2 linked regions of the Homo sapiens genome follow. Changing the gene in region 1 together with any one later gene gives a genetic interaction. Each region holds a gene or a part of one and is shown on either strand. Other genes may lie near its edges.

What was found.
Region 2: changes in RAB1A (region 1) and COG5 are lethal when combined (synthetic lethality), as found in Homo sapiens cells (one study listed by BioGRID).

Annotation. Positions count from the first base shown.
Region 1 is NC_000002.12:65,098,538-65,107,119, reverse strand, and holds part of RAB1A (ras-related protein Rab-1A), read left to right. Parts: intron 1-2,313; coding exon 2,314-2,386; intron 2,387-8,582. UniProt on the Homo sapiens protein: The small GTPases Rab are key regulators of intracellular membrane trafficking, from the formation of transport vesicles to their fusion with membranes.
Region 2 is NC_000007.14:107,560,376-107,569,202, forward strand, and holds the start of COG5 (conserved oligomeric Golgi complex subunit 5), read right to left. Parts: upstream 3,546-8,827; 5' UTR 3,522-3,545; coding exon 3,428-3,521; intron 1-3,427. Other genes in the region: DUS4L-BCAP29 protein, read left to right, coding at 6,696-6,811; DUS4L (tRNA-dihydrouridine(20a/20b) synthase [NAD(P)+]-like), read left to right, coding at 6,696-6,811.

The sequences.
Region 1 (8,582 bases):
CACTCCAGCCTGGGCAACAGAGCGAGACTCTTGTCTCAAAACAAACAAACAAAAAAAGAATATTTGGGGCCAGGCATGGTGGCTCACACCTGTAGTCCCAGCACTTTGGGAGGCCAAGGCGGGTGGATCACTTGAGATCAGGAGTTGGAGACCAGCCCGACCAACATGGCTAAATCCCGTCTCTACTAAAAGTACAAAAATTAGCTTGAGCAACAGAGCAAGACTCTGTCTCAAAAAAAGAAAGAAGAATATTTGGTTTAATTAAGAAGGAACCTTATCAATAGTAGTAAAGTCAGCCAGCTGAACTGCCAAGTACAAATTGTTGGTATTAGGTATCAATCATTTATTAAGGATAATATTCTACAATAGCGATCTTTTTAAAAATTTTAAAATCTCAAACTGGAAAGGATGTCTAGTTCATTCTATGCTTCAGTCCCCTCTTCTGATTTACTTGTTTAGAAGATTTTTGTTTCCTTCTCTGACTTCTATTTTGCTGCTGACTGGCACTTGGGATTTTTAAAAAATTATTTTCCTCATATATAATTAAAGACAATAAGTATAACAATAAGTATAATATGGTAATTTGCTAAAACCCAAACAATGTTTTAAGTAATGCATATCATTATGTAAACCTACGTAATAGTTGAATATTCACAAAGATAATCGCTTATAGAAGTTTTATATCCTCTCTTCTTTGGCAGTGCAATTAAAACAAAAAAAATAAGTTTTATGTCTTGTTTACATGTAAATAATTTTAATCTAAATTGTGACGTGGTTTTCACTTTAGCATATTTTTGAAAGTAAATCAAAAAGGACAAAATACAAAATCATGTATATCTTCTACAAAAACGATATATAAATTCTAAGGTTTTTGTCCTTTTGAAATTGCTTAAAAGAATGCATAGAACTGGTGTCTGAGTTGGGAAGGATCTATGAGGGATTTCCTTGGAGACTGTGGGTGAATAATAATGTTGTCTTAGTTCCATGAAGGAATCTCTGGGGATAGTTTTTGAGTTAGGCCTGGCAATGTTAGAGATACATAAAGAGAGCCTTGTTTTATCACTGGGTGCGGTGGCTCACACCTGTAATTCCAGCACTTTGGGAGGCTGAGGCGGGCAGATCATGAGGTCAGGAGATCGAGACCATCCTGGCCAACACGGTGAAACCCGTGTCTACTAAAAATACAAAAATTAGCTGGGCGTGGTGGCGCATGCCTATAATCCCAGCTACTCGGGAGGCTGAGGCAGGAGAATCACTTGAACCAGGGAGTTGGAGGTTGCAGTGAGCCGAGATCGCGCCACTGCACTCCAGCCTGGGTGACAGAGCAAGACTCCGTCTCAAAAAAAAAAAGCTTGGTTTTCAATGGTTCTGAAAAATGCTTTAATACAAGTGTAGAGTGTTAGTCAAGTTTTGCACTTGGATAAACAGCCTGTGAATTTATCACATTTCTAGTTTATAATATGGGCTTTCAGAAGTTATATGAACATTGTTTTGACGGGAGAATTCAAGCTGGATGCTAGAGAAGGATCGTGAGAACCCCTTCATTGGAGGAGTGCTATGAAATTATTTGATCTTGGAATTTTTTTTTTTTTTTTTTTTTTTTTTTTTGAGACAGAGTTTCGTTCTTATTGCCCAGGCTGGAGCTGGAATGCAGTGGCACGATCTCGGCTCACTGCAACCTCTGCCTCCTGGGTTCAAGCAATTCTTCTGCCTCAGCCTACCAGGTAGCTGGGATTACAGGCATGCGCAACCATGCCCAGCTAATTTTTGTATTTTTAATGGAGACGGGGTTTCACCATGTTGGTCAGGCTGGTCTTGAACTCCTGACCTCAAGTGAACTGCCTGCCTCAGCCTCCCAAAGTGTTGGGATTACAGGTGTGAGCCACTGCGCCTGGCCTGATCTTAGAATTTGAAGGAGAGACTAATATTTCATGGGCAAAAACAATGAAAAGTTACCTTTCTGTATTCTAATACTATAGAGGAGTGGGATTTATTTAGAATGTTTTAAGTATCTTGGGCAGTCCAAGAGTGCGTATCACTTATTTTTCTTTTCCTTCTTTCTTTTTAAGTGGAAGTTCACTGATGTTAGAGATCATAGGTGGCATTGCCTACTTTTTACATAATTTTATCATGTTTAGTGATCTGTCAGAAGGGCTGTGGCTGTTTGCAGTTTTGGCTTAAGCCATGCATGGGCTTTATAGGAGATGTAGTCTTCACAGTGAGTTGTTATTTGTAGCTGTGTTTTTGTTTTTGTATAGCTTATAGCAATGCAGTGTGCTTTTTATTAACATCATTTTCTTTTTCTTTTTGCAGTGATTATTTATTCAAGTTACTTCTGATTGGCGACTCAGGGGTTGGAAAGTCTTGCCTTCTTCTTAGGTTTGCAGTAAGTTGAAATTGAAATGTCTTTACAATTAATGGTACAATTAATGCTATGTATGTTTTCTAGGTAGATAAAATTAAACAGTTTTATTCAGAATAAGTTAATTCTTCCAGAATTTATATATTTAAAGACTCCAAATATACATCCCCAGTGGTATCTTGGACTGTTAAATAGAAAAATATTGTTGCTCTTAAAAGAAATTCAGTGAAGTATGGTTATAAAGTCAGAATGTCTAATACTTTTGGTCAGAGTCAAACAGCAGTTCCAATATAGGCAGCAAGTTAAAGGGGTAGTTGGTGGCCTGTGTTGAAAGCGACTTGATGAAAATAAATCTTTAAATTAAACTTTAGTAGAATAAGAAGAAAAAGCAGAGCCAGGTGACGCAGTGGATCATGCCTGCAGTCTCAGCTACTCAGGGTGCTGAGGGTGGAAGGATCACTTGAGTCTAGGAGTTTTGAGACCAACCTGGACAACATAGCATGACTCTGTCTCTGAAAAAAAAAGTTAATAAAAGAAAAAGTAGGGTCTTGGACAAACTTCGTTGGCCAATGGCATAGTTCTAAATGCTGAAGCTGACAGATAAAGGACTTTTGACTTAACAGAATCCACAGTGTCCTTCATAGTCTTTATCAACTACCTTTAAATTTAGCATGTTTCCTGGCCAGGTGCGGTGGCTCACGCCTGTAATCCCAGCACTTTGGGAGGCCGAGACGGGCGGATCACAAGGTCAAGAGATCGAGACCATCCTGGCTAACACGGTGAAACCCCGTCTCTACTAAAAATACAAAAAATTAGCTGGGTGTGGTGCCACACGCCTGTAGTCCCAGCTACTCGGGAGGCTGAGGCAGGAGAATCGCTTGAACCCAGGAGGCGGAGGTTGCAGTGAGCTGAGATGGTGCCACTGCACTCCAGCCTGGCAACAGAGCAAGACTGTCTCAAAAAAAAAAGAAAAAAAATAAAAAAACAAATTAGCATGTTTCCCTTCTAGAGATCATTGTTTCTCAGAGCATGGACCAAAGACTCCTGGGGGTTACCAAGACCCTCTCAGGTAGCCCATGAGGTCAAAATATCCTAATAATACTAAGATGTTAGTATTTGTAAGGAAATATTTACTTGGTAATAATACTAATATAAAAGATGTTTGCGTTTTTCAGTGATGACATTGGCTCTGGTACAAAAGCATGTGGGTAAAATTGCTGCTGGCTTGGTACACATCAAGGCAGCGCTAAGCTCCAAATTGTACTCATGGTGATGGCATTCTTTACCTCTGTGCCCTCACAGGAACAAAAACAAGCCGTGCCATTTTTATTGAAGATTGTCCTTGACAAAACAGTTAAAATGATTAATTTTTGAAAAATGTTGATCCATGAGTATTCCTTTAAAAATATTTGTGAAGAAATGGGAAGTTCACATAAAACAATGTTTTTTTTTTTTTTTGAGACAGATTCTGGCTGTGTTGCCAAGGCTAGAGTGCAGTGGCGTCTGGCTCCCAGGCTCAAGCTGTTCTCCCACTTCAGCCTCCCAAGTGGCTGGGACCTCCCAAGTGGATGCGCCATCATGCCTGGCTGATTTTTGTATTTTTTTGTAGTGACAAGGTCTCACTGTGTTGCACAGGCTGCTCTCAAACTTCTGAGCTCAAGCGATGCATGTGCCTCAGCCTCCCAAAGTGCTGGAGAAAGCACTTTTTACTGCATACTGGCTAGTGTGTTGGTTATTTTGGAGAAAAGAAAAGCATTTGTAGTTTTTTGAGTTGTAAGCTGAGCTAACTGCTTTATTTTTTTCTGTGGAACACCATTTCTTTTTTTTTTTTTGAGATGGAATATTGCTTTGTTGCCCAGGCTGGAGTGCAGTGGCACAATCTCGGCTCACTGCAACCTCCGCTTCTCGGGTTCAAGCAATTCTTCTGCCGTAGCCTCCCAAGTAGCTGGGATTATAGGCACCTGCCACCAAGCCCAGCTAGTTTTTGTATTTTTAGTAGAGATGGGGTTTCACCATGTTGGCCAGGCTGGTCTCGAACTCCTGACTTCGTGATCCGCTTGTCTCAGCCTCCCAAAGTGCTGGGATTACAGGCGTGAACTACTGCACCTGGACATTTTTTTTTTTTTTTTTAACTTGAAAGAACAGCTAACAGACAGATTAGAACAGAATTGGCTATTTGACAGATTTTCTCAGATGAACTGTGATAGTCATTTCAAGGGAAGTAGCTGCAAGCATTTGTTGGCTGAAATAAAATTTAAGTTTATCATGGAAAATTAGAATTTGAAAAAACTTAGAGTTTACCACTTGACAGTATCCTAAATACATATGACTTTTCTGATGAGTGCCGATATTAATGAAGGTTATTTAAAAAATATTAAATAATGTATAATTCTTTTTATATAACAGTTAAAAATAAAACCATGAGTACTAGAATAAAACATAGGTGGCTCTTTAATCTTGGTTTGTGAAGGTATTTTTTAAAATAAGAAAAAAGCAAGAAATCACTGCTAAATTTGACTATTAAAATTAATTTATCACAGGCACAAAAATGTTAGAAAACTAATGGCAATAGCAAATATATATATATGAGGATTGGTATTCTCAACATATAAAGCACATTTGCACATCAACAAGAAAAGAATATTTCTCCTAATGGAAATAGTGGCAAATACATGAGCAGTCAGTTGAAAAAAGAAGTAATACAAATTGCTGGCTGGGTGTGGTGGGTCACGCCTGTAATCCCAGCATTTAGAGGCTGAGGCTGGCGGATCATCTGAGGTCAGGAGTTCGAGACCAGCCTGACCAACATGGAGAAACCCTGTCTCTACTAAAAATACAAAATTAGCCGGATGTGGTGGCGCATGCCTGTAATCCCAGCTACTTGGGAGGCTGAGGCAGGAGAATTGCTTGAACCCAGGAGGCGGAGGTTGTGGTGAGTCGAGATCGCACCATTGCACTCCAGCCTGGGCAACAAGAGCGAAACTCCATCTCAAAAAAAAAAAAAAAAAAAAAAAAGGAAGTAATACAAATTGCCAATAAATATGGAAAAAAAAAAAGGCTCAACTTTATTTGTAATTAAAGGCCTTTAAGTTAAACTTAGGTGTCATTTAATTTTTATTAAATTGGCAAATATTAAAATTAAGCATAATTCTTAAGCAACTCTCGGTAGGTGGGAAGAATCTAGCTGTAGCCTCAGGCGTTTGTGCCTCAAGGAAAACCCTCTCTGGGATGTCCATTGCTTGAAGTCAAAGGTTTTCCAATAATACCTGGAAACTATTTTTAAAATGCTGATCCCCATACCCTCAAAATATTAATAGAGACAATCGTGAGGACTATAATAAAGAAATGTGCAATAAGCTCTGGGGGCACAGAGGGAAGAATCTATTGGCTGAGGAGTTGAAGAAATTGTTTGGACACTCAGTATTGCCTGAGCTCAAAACTGAAGGATGAATAAATGCCACATGACCTTGGGGCTGGGGAGTAAGTAGGGTTATGCAGAGAGAGATAACTGAGGCTTTTGGGCAGACGAATAGTAACGGCTCAGGCATGGGAGTAAAGGTCATTTAGAGATTTACAAGAATTCAGCATTTCTTTCTTTTTCTTTTTTTTTTTGAGATGGAGTCTAGCTCTGTCATCCAGGCTGGAGTACAGTGGCATGATCTCAGCTCACTATAACTCCCACCTCCCGGGTTCAAGTGATTCTCATGCCTCAGCCTCCCGAGTAGCTGGTATTACAGGCGTGTACTACTGTGCCTGGCTAATTTTTGTATTTTTAGTAGAGATGGGGTTTCACCATGTTGGTCAGGCTGGTCTCCAACTCCTGAGCTCAAGTGATATGTGCACCTCTGCTCCCCAAAGTGCTGGGATTACAGGCGTGAGCCACTGTACCCGGCCAAGAATTCAGTATTTCTATCCAAGTACCTGGGGGATAGATGTGCTACATGAATATTTATTGCATTCATTTTGTTCTCTGCATTTTTTTTTTTTTTTTTTTGGTTTGAGATGGAGTCTCGCTCTGTCGCCCAGGCTGGAGTGCAGTCGTGCAATCTCGGCTCACTGCAGCCTCCACCTCATGGGTTCAAGCGATTCTCCATCTTGGTCTCCTGACTAGCTAGGTTTACAGGCGTGTGCCATCACACCCACTAATTTTTTGTATTTTTAGTAGAGACAGGGTTTCACCATGTTGGCCAGGCTGGTCTTGAACTCCTGATCTAAAGTGAGCCTCCCACCTTGGCCTCCCAAAGTGCTGGGATTACATATGTGAGCCACTGCGCCTGGCCTCTATATACTTCTATAGTACCTGATACTTATTAGGCACTCAATTACAACATAACTTTTTTTTTTTTTTTTTTTTTTTGAGACAGAGACATGCCTTGTCGCCTGGGCTGGAGTGCAGTGGCACAGTCTCGGCTCACTGCAACCTTCACCTCCCGGGTTCAAGTGATTCTCCTTCCTCAGCCTCCCGGGTAGCTGGGATTACAGGCGCCCGCCACCACGTCCAGCTAATTTTTTGTATTTTTAATAGAGATGAGGTTTCACCATCTTGGCCAGGCTGATCTCAAACTCCTGACCTTGTGATCCACTCACCTTGGCCTCCCAAAGTGCTGGTATTACAGGTGTGAGCCATCATGCCCGGCCCATATTTCTAAAAACATTTTCTTATAAAATGACATTGCCATTATCAACCTGCAAAATACAGTTTCCATTTGGTTGTTTTCTTGCTTAGTCTTTTAATCTAGAGTTTTATACCTTATCTTTTTTATTTATATATTTTTTATGTCATTGACTTTTTGCAGAAACTGAAGCACTTGTCCTGTAGATTGTCCAATATTCTAGATTTGTCATTTTGCTTCCTTGTGATGTCCTTATGCTTATTTGTTTGTCCCTCTTTCTGTAATTAGAAGACCTAGAACTGCACTATCCTTAGAGTAGCTACTAGCTCTATGTAGCTATTTAAATTTAAATTAATTAAAATTGAAAAAGTTTGGTGGCTCACACCTGTAATCCCAGCACTTTGGGAGGCCAAGGTGGGAGGATTGCTTGAGTGCAGGAGTTCAAGGCTTCAGTAAGCTACGATTGTACTCTAGCCTGGGAGACATCAAGACCCTGTCCCTTTAAGGGGGAAAAATAATTGAAAAAATCAAAAACTTAGTTTCTTGTTTCACAAGCTGCATAGGGCTAATGGCTACCATATTGGCTAGCACAGCTTATAGAACCTTTCCATTGTCACAGGAAGTTCTGTTTGGCAGTGCCGTTCTCATTAGACCTGATTCGATTAAGGTCCATCTTTGTTGACAGAGTACTTCTTAGGTGGTGCTTTGTGGTTCATATGATGATAGCCTGGTCTGTTCATTCATATATCTTTTCACGAGAAATATTTTTATTCCATTCTGAATAAAATTTCATGGCAGGTACTTGCAAGAAGCAGTTATAATTTTAAAAGTTTAACATTAGGTTAAAAAATTGACAGGAAACATATATTCACAGGAAAACTTGTACACAAATGTTCATGGCAGCATTATTCATAATAGCCAAGAAGTGGAAACAACCCAAATCAATTTATGAATGGATAAAATGTTGTATATTTGTAGTACATGTAATATTATTCAGCCAATAAAATGGGCCAGGCATGGTGGCTCACACCTGTAATCCCAGCACTTTGAGAGGCTCAGGCAGGGGGATCACTAGAGGTCAGGAGTTTGAGACCAGCCTGACCATCATCACGAAACCCTGTCTCTACTAAACGTACAAAAATTAGGCAGGCGTGGTGATGCACGCCTGTAGTCCCTACTACTCAGGTGGCTGAGTCATGAGGATTGCTTGGACCCCGGGAGACAGAGGTTGCAGTGAGCTGAGATCATGACACTGCACTCCAGCATGGGCAACAGAGCAACATCCTGCCTCAAAAAAAAAAAAAAAAAGAAGTACTGTTACATGGTACAACATGGATGAACCTTGAAAACATTCTGCTAAATGAAGGAAGACAGACACAGAGGGCCACATATTTTATGATTCCATTTATACGAAATGTCCAAAATTGGCAAATCTAAAGAGAAAGTAGATTAGTGGTTGCCAGGGAGTGAAGACGGGTTCTTTCTGGAGTGAAGAAAATGTCCTGGAATTCGTGGTTGTAGTTTGCAACCTTGTGAATGTATAAGGACCACTGAATTGTCCACTTCAAAAGGGTGACTTTTATGTTATGTGCATTATATCTAAAAAA
Region 2 (8,827 bases), on another chromosome or scaffold:
GACAAATTTGACAAATATTCACACTGCACAGGATGTAGGACTTAGTGACAAGCTGAAAATGGGTGATTAGGTAGAACAAACAAGGATTCCCAAATTTCTGGATTAAGCAACTGATACAGGAAATTTAGTTTTACACTAACTTAGACCACTAGACACTGAATATACCAAGATGAACATAAACTTCTGCCTCCAAGGAATTCATAATTTACAAGGGGAACAAGCACACATTTACCTAACAACATAGTAAACACAGATAACAGAAACTACCAGAGGAAAAGATTAGGAGAGAAGAACAGAAAAAGTGAATTCATTTCATTTTTTCATATGTAAACCTTGTACTATTTGTTCATATGTAGGTTTTCATGTGTATTATAGAACTAGCACTGCTTGTTTACTATCAAAATAGAAATGTCCATACAGGTTATGGAATGGCATATCATAAAAAAATTAAGATAGAAATGTCCAGTAGGCAGTTAAAAATATAGTTTTATAATTCAGAAGACAGGTAAGGAGCATACTGAAACCACAGACAAGACCAGATGATTTAGGAAAAAAAAGTTTTAGAATGCACAAAAAGGCAGGAAAATGAGGAAGATAGGAAAGTGGGGGGTGGACAGAGAAAATGAAAGCAATCAAAGAGACTAAAGAGTGCTCAGGGAGAAAGAGAAACAAAAAAGAATGGCAAAAGCCAAAAGAAGGGATAAAGAAAGTAAGTATTAGTATTGTCATAGAGCTTACAAAGATCAAACACAACGGGATGTGGCATTTGAGGGCTGACAGCCTTTAAAGAGATGAATTATATAATGCTTCTCTTTTATAGTTTCCTCATTCCCATAGAGGGCATATCAGAAACACCTCACCAATTTTCATACTATGCATCTGTGCTCACCAAGCCTATCAATCCGATACTCTGTCATTGGCCAAATCCCCGATATAGTGAATCAAAGTTTCTGCTGGAAATGCTTAATTCCTCAGGAATGTTGGGGGTGGAGGGGCAACAGAGACCGCTTAATTCAGAACAAACTGAACTGACAAGTATCTACAGGAACCTGGAAAAGAGCACCTAGAGAATTAAGAATTTTTAAAAAGCACGGCACCCATAAACCGCATGAGGAAAGTATTTCAAGAAAGGAATCAAATGTTATTACAAGTTAAAGGACCAAAAAAGTGTCCATTTGTCGTATGTGCAAGAAAGTCATTGAAAACCTTGCAAAGTTACTTCAATGGCATAGATTGAGGGTGACTGAGTCCCCAGGAAACAGGAAGAAAAAATCCAGAGCAAAGTAGGAGGCACTATCCTTAGAACGGAGCAGAGACTCGGCCGGGCGTGGTGGCTCACGCCTGTAATCCCAGCACTCTGGGAGGCCAAGGCAGGCAGATCACGAGGTCAGGAGATCGAGACCATCCTGGCTAACACGGTGAAACCCCGTCTCTACTAAAAATACAAAAAATTAGCTAGGCATAGTGATGGGCGCTTGTAGTCCCAGCTTCTCAGGAGGCTGAGCCAGGAGAATGGCGTGAACCCCGGAGGCAGAGCTTGCAGTGAGCCGAGACTGCGCCACTGCACTCCAGCCTGGGCAACAGCGCGAGACTCCGTCTCAAAAAAAAAAAAGAAAGAAAGAAAGAAAGGAGCAGAGGCTCCACTTCCGTTGCAATTGAAAAGGCAAGGGAAAAAAGGTGCAACAGATGGTTATACGTTGAGGTTAAATTCATAGGTTTGATGGGCAAGAAATGGAGAAAGTTCACATCTGATGGATCCTCTTTTTCTCCCCAGGGAAGCTTAAAGTCATTTGTTGAGCTTGAAGCGAAAGGTTTGAAAAGGGTAAAGAAGATTTAAACAATCACTGTGGAGAATGGCAGAGAACCAAGGAGGAAAATACAGAAGGCAGAACTGAAGAGTATTTACCGTCCAAGAACTGATTACAATTCCTGAAATACATCCTACTGAAACATATATCCAATGTTCCACTGTTCACCTGGGGAAGTCCTGTCTACAGTTTAAAACGTCTCCACCTAGAAAGCCTTTTCTGACATTTCCTAACCAGTTTCCAACCCCCAGTTATCATTCTCCTCTGTATTAATGCTCTACTTTATATGCAATCCTACTGCTATCTTACATCACTATATTACAGCACCTACCTTTATAGTCTACAAGATTATTTCCTCTACTAGATGGTGAACTACTTGAGGGCAAAAATTGCACGTGTATCAGGAGCAACTGCAAATATATCAGGGTCTCTGCCTTGTATCTAAAGTTTAAATTCAGTTTAGCCAAGTTTTAGACAGAGACCCGGTCCTAGAGTTTCCAACATGAAATAGTTCAGAAAACATCATTGCTTTTGACAAAAGTACATAAATTATCATGAAAAGGCACGTAATTCAGGATGACAATAAAATATTTAACAGTCAGAGAAAATAAACAATAATTTGGAACTTTATTTCATTTATTACCCACTTCGGTCTTCAAATGTGTGCATGTGCTTCTAACTGCGATGATGAATTTAAAAAACATTCTGCACCTACTGTATGCAAGATACTGCTATTCACACTGTGGGATATTAAAAAAAGTTTGCAATACAGAAGAGATTAAAACAAGTATACAAATGATTTTAGTACAAGGTAGAATGCGATGGCCACTAGAGAAAAAATTAAGAACAGGTGAGAAGGGCTTTATTTTTATGCTTATAAATGTGAACTTTATTCTGAAGGATAAGAGATTCGGGACATGGTAACTGGATTGACACAACTGAATATGCTTTTCAAGTATATTATATCTAACTTTTCTTATTTTGGGCAACTTCTCTCCAAACTGACTAGCAATAAAATCTGACTGCTAGATTCTGTACAAATGGTTAATCCCAACCTGAACAAATGTCTCAAACCCTCCCCCACGTGTCACTGTAGATAACTGCCTCATAAAGGAGGAAAAAAAAAACCAGCCTGTAAGAGGGGTCACCTGTACAGTCCATTTGTTAAAGGAGTAAGCGTTTCCAGCTCTACTTTAAAACAAGGCCCTATTTCATTATGCGTCTGCCGTCTGTTCTAGAGCTTACACTTTTGAAGAGCTCGAACGCTACACCCCTTCGTCAAGAACTGCGGCAGCAGCCGGTGGCTGCCAACGCGGTCCACAGGGTTTGGGCTCCCGAAACTTCAGGGAAGCTGGAGGCATGGGGGGGGGGGGGGTCGAGTTGAAATGAGGAACACACAGAAACCAAGTGTCCCCAAGACTCCAGAAAAGAGGGAGCCAGTCCCAGAGTAAATAGGTTGGCTAGAACAGTACCCAAGCCAGGGGGCCGGGCGGAGGGGAGTGGTCACGTCCAGACTGGAAAACTTTCTGCAAAGCAACGGGTTGGGTCCACCTCGCTGTCCAGGTGCGGAGCAGCGCAGACCCCCAACCCCACGACCTGGTCAGACCCCGTCTCCTTACCGTCCTGCAGAAGTTCCCGGACTGTAGCTGCAGCCGCTCCAGAGCCTCGAGCTCCGAGGCCAGCTACAGCGACGCTGCCGCCGCCACCTTCCATGTTGGCAGGTGCCGGGTTGATGTCGTCAGCAGCAGAACGGCTCCGCCCAGGTGGTGACGCAGAATCCCGGCGCCGCCCGCCCACCCAGCCCATGGCTCCAGGCCCACCTGGCGAACTGACTCTCAGCCCGCGCCTGGGCTAAGCCTGGCTAGGAGCCGCGCAGGTACTCGAGCAGTGGGCGCCCAGGGTCCGAGTGCTCTGCGCCCAGCGCACCGAGGGAGCCAAGGCCGTCGGGCCGGCGCTTTCAGCTGTCTCTCGCAGCAGCTCAGGGCCGCGCCCCCTGGGCTGGCGTCGTGCCCTAGCCAAGGAGAAGGTGGGCACCGGAACGTGGCCGCAGCGCTTATCTGTGAAGCAAGTATTAAACCTCAGAACAGGGGCCGCGCGGCGTAAGGCAGGAGAGCAGAGCGGAGGTTTCAGGGAGCTTCGTTTGCCCTCCACACTCACAAGAGTCACGCGTTAGTTGCTACACAGCTTTATCTGTTCCACGCCTTGATTGGCACTCCTGGGGTAATAAAAGCCCGCAGGAAATGCTTGGGAAGAAAAGTTGCTGGGGATGAACAGTGAAGAGAATTAGGGAGAGTCGATGAAGAAGGAAGTCTGAACCATAAAAGGACCAATAAAACTCACTGTCTCTACCCTCCTTCCTTCCCATGAGACCTTTGACCTTTTGCCTTTTCTACTTCTTCCTCAGTTTCAGTCACGTGCCAGACTTTTTCTTAATTACAAACTGATAGATGGTCCACATCTCAACTAACAGTATTGACGCTGTAAGAGCATCAGGTTGGTTCCCATTGTATCTTCTTTACTAATACGTTCGCGTTTTTGACCTAGATTTCTTTCTTCTAAGATAAATACTGATAAATTAACAGGGTCAGGCAACCACAAGTATGCAAGACAGTCTTAAGCTTCTTCGCAAAAAGAAGCTGGAAGATGACTTTTTCATTTTGTACAGTAGGTATGTATCCAGGAAACCAATTTTATCCAGTTCCAGAGCTACGTGGTTTTCTACATTCTGTTTCAAAAAGGTGCTATTACTTATCCTGTGCTTATCGCTGTTCTAAGTATTTTATAACTCAATGCATTTCATACTCATAACACCTCAGGTAAGCAAGTCTTATGCTACACTGCATTATGCTCTCTTTGTCTCAGAGGATTTTCCCTAGTATGTAAGATCTTAGTCATGATGGGAATAGGGGTGATTCATTCATTACTTGTGAATTAGGAATTGTTTTTCCTTCCTTGGCTTTATTCCCCCCAGTGGAAGATTTTAGAAGAGTGAGTAATATTCATTCATACAGCGAAAGTTTTGACCCCTCTACTCTGCATGCTCTCATGAGTTTACAAACATAAGACTCAATCCATATTCTAAAAGGAGTTAATAGGTAAGGTAGGAACCCATTTAAACAAACAATTGTACCAGGTGCTTTGGAATCTTTGGATTTACTTATTCCAGTAATTCCAAGCTTAGCTGCACATTGAAATCACCTGAAGAGCTTTAATAAAAACACTGATGCCTGCATCCTGAGCCCAGACGTTTGGATTTAATTGGTCTAGGGTATGGCTTGGGCATGCTAATTCTTAAAAGCTCCTCGGGTCATTGTAGTGTACAACTAAGGTAGAAAGCTACTGATTGTTTTGTTTTGTTGAGTTGGGGTCTAGCTCTGTTACCCAGGCTGGAGTGCAGTGGCAGGATCGTGGCTCACTGCAGCCTCAACCTCCTGGGCTCAAGGGATCCTCCTGCCCAAGCTTCTGGAGTAGTTGGGATCACAGTCGCTTGCTACCACGCCCAGCTGATTTTTATAATTTTTTTAGAGATGGGGGTCTCACTATATTGCCCAAGCTGGTCTCAAACTCCTGGCCTTAAGCAAGCCTCCCACCTTGGCCTCCCAAAATGCTGAGTTTACAGGTGTGAGCCCAGTCCCCTGAAACCTACTGATTTATTCTTTCAGCAAATAAATATTGAGGCCTTCTGTATGCCATTTACTATGACTGCAGGAGTGGATAAAAATGAAGTAATTCTTGCTAAAATCACTAATGACCTTGTTGCCATTGCGCTTTATTTTTGCCTTACTTTGATGTTTAAGATACCTATCCCCTCCTTCCTTCATAATGGTCTCTCTCGTTTTCTGAGTATCACTCTTTAGGTTTATTCCTCCCAGCTCCAAAGTTCATCTTCAGTCTCTTTTGCTCTCCCCTTTTCCTCTGTTACTTAAATATTGGTGCTTCCAGCGGTTTCTTGCAAGATCCTGACATCCTTAAGTACCTTGGCTATTTTTAATTTCAACTCCTTGCCTAAAGGTTAAAGACTCTAAAGTTTGAGCAATTAGACCATTCTAAAGTTGGCCCATATCTGATTCTTTTTTTTGTTGTTGTTATTTTCTGCTTCATTTTTCCTTCATACATACCTGTTTCTAAGTTACTGAGGCCAAGGACTGGAATATGAAAAGTAGCCAACACTGTGAAATAGTAGGATTTTAAGTATAGCAAATGTAAAACATTTACAAACTCCATAATTTCATCACTCGTACCTGTACCTCTTGGGGTATAAAAGTGATTTACAATGCAATTGTAGAATTATAATTGAAATTTTCACTAGATAATATCACATTAAAATTTTTAAAAATAATTAACGTTTGTTTATCTTCTGATTCACAGACAGAACAGGATTCAAGAATTACAATAAAAGCACCAGCATATCTTTTGAAACACTGACTACTTAAGAGTTGCTCTATTAATGCCATTTAACTTTCCTGAATAAAACAAGATATTTCCAAATGCCAGTCGAGTATCATATATAAAATAATTCAAACCAAATTTCTTGGCTTACCAATCCCAACAAAGTAACATGTAAAAAATTTTTAAATAACATGAAAACTTACAACATGGTAAACTAGGGAAAAAAAAAAAATCTCGTTTTCTGCATCTTGTGTTTCCACAACTATCTTGGGTAGTTTTCCACATCTATTTATCTTACAAATAGAGGCAGCATTCTATAGTATCATATTGGATACTGTGAAAATAAGCTATTAATAAAAAAATTTCTGAGCCCACAAGCCTGATAAAAAATATATGTTGTTGGCAGTTGAAATTGTTAGAATGGAATTAATATAGTGAAAACATATTTTCTCTATACAAGCTTATTGTCTTTTTCAGATTTGAAACATATCTGTATTAATGAAGAGTGACTGCATGCAAACGACAATATGTCAGGAAAGAAAAAAAGATCCCATAGAAATGTTTCATTCTGGACAGCTGGTAAAAGTCTGTGCCCCAATGGTTCGATATTCAAAGTAAGTGTTGCAAAATGATTAATGAACTAAGATGAAATTTCCCTTTTATGCTCTGACTTTTTAAAAGTACTGTAAGACCACCCACCATATGGGAACTTCAAACTCTTAGCTTTGGAATCATGACTTAGAATTGAGTCATGATGCTACTACTTGCCTAGTATATATGTGATCCTGAGTAAACAATTAACTTCTCTGAGCTGCACTTTTTATATCTATAAAAATGGTGGTGGTTGTAACTCCTACCTATAAGTATATAATGGATATTAAATAGATATAAGTATTGATGTATAGATTTTTATGTGAACTTAAGTCTTGGGACAAATAGGAGTGCAATTATGGGTCCTAAGGTAGTTGTGTGTTCAGTTTTCGAAGAAATATTTCTTCGTATCTTTTGCTCATCTTCTAATTGGATTGTTTGCTCTTTTACTATTGAGTTTTTTTAGAAGTTTGTTATAAAATATACGTAACATAAAATTTACCTCTCGATCATTTTTAAGTATACAGTTCAGCAGTGTTAATTACATTCACATTGTTGTGCATCTGATCTCTAAAACTCTTTTCATCTTAGAAGATGGAAATTCTATCACATTAAACTGTGACTCCCCATTCCACTGTTCCTCACAGCAGCCCCTGGCAACCATTATTCTACTTTCTCCCTCTATGAACTTCACTACTCTAGGTACCTCATATAAGTCTTATACGTATTTGTTCAGAACTGGATTTATTTTGCTAATATTTTATGCAGCATAACATCCTCAAGGTTCATTCATGTTGTAGCATATATCAGACTTGTTCCTTTTTAAGGCTGAATAATATTCCATTTTATGTATATTTTGTTCATTCATCTGTTGATATCCATTCATATATTGATAGAACACAAGATAACTTCCACCTTTTGGCTACTGCAAATAATACTGTCATGAACTATGGGTGTACAAATACCCATATACAAATACCCATGGTTCGTAACAGGTCTCTGAGACCCTGCTTTCAATTCTTTTTGACTATGTACCCAGATGTAGAATTGCTGGATCATATGGTGATTCTATGTTTAATTTTTTGAGCAACTACTGTACTGCTTTCCATAGCAGCTGCACCATGTTACCTTACCACCAGCAGTGAACAAGAGTTTTAATTTCTCCACATCCTCATCAACACTTGTTATGTTCTGGGAGTTTTTATTTTATTATTATAATCATCCTAATGGGTGTGAAGTGGTATCTCATTGCAGTTTTAATTTGCATTTCCCTAATGATTAATGATGCTGAACATCTTTTTGTGTGTTTATTGGCCATTTGTATGTTGTCTTTGTAGAAGTATCTATTCAAGTGCTTTTGTCCATTTGTTTGTTTTCTTGTTTTCTATTATACTCTAGATATATATTCTGCTTTGTCAGATGTGTGATTTGCACGTATTTTCTCCCTGTATATGGCTTGTCTTTCATGCTCCTAACAGGATCTTTTGCAGAACAAAAGTTTCATTTTAATGAAGTCTAACATCAATTTTTCCTTTTGTAAATTGTGCTTTCGATGTCAAGTATAAGAAACCTTTATGTAGCTCCAGATCCTGAATATTTTCTCCTAAGTTTTTTTCCCTAAAAGTTTTATAGTTTTATGTTTTGCATTTAAGTCCATGATCAATTTTGCATTAACTTTTATGTAAGTGTGAGGCTTAGGTTAGGTTGCCTATGGATGTCCAATTACTCCAGCATCATTTTTGAAAGGCTATCAGCCAGGCACAGTGGCTCACGCCATCAAATCCTAATCCCAGCACTTTGGGAGGCCGAGGTGGGCAGATCATTTGAGGTCAGGAGTTCGAGACCAGCCTGGCCAACATGGTGAAACCCCATCTCTACTAAAAATACAAAAATTAGTCAGCGTGGTGGCGCATGCCAATAGTCCCAGCTGCTGGGAGGCTGAGGCAGGAAAATCGCTTGAACCTGGGAGGTGAAGGTTGCAGTGAGCCAAGATCGCACCACTGCACTCCAGCCTGGGCAACAAGAGTAAAACTCCGTCT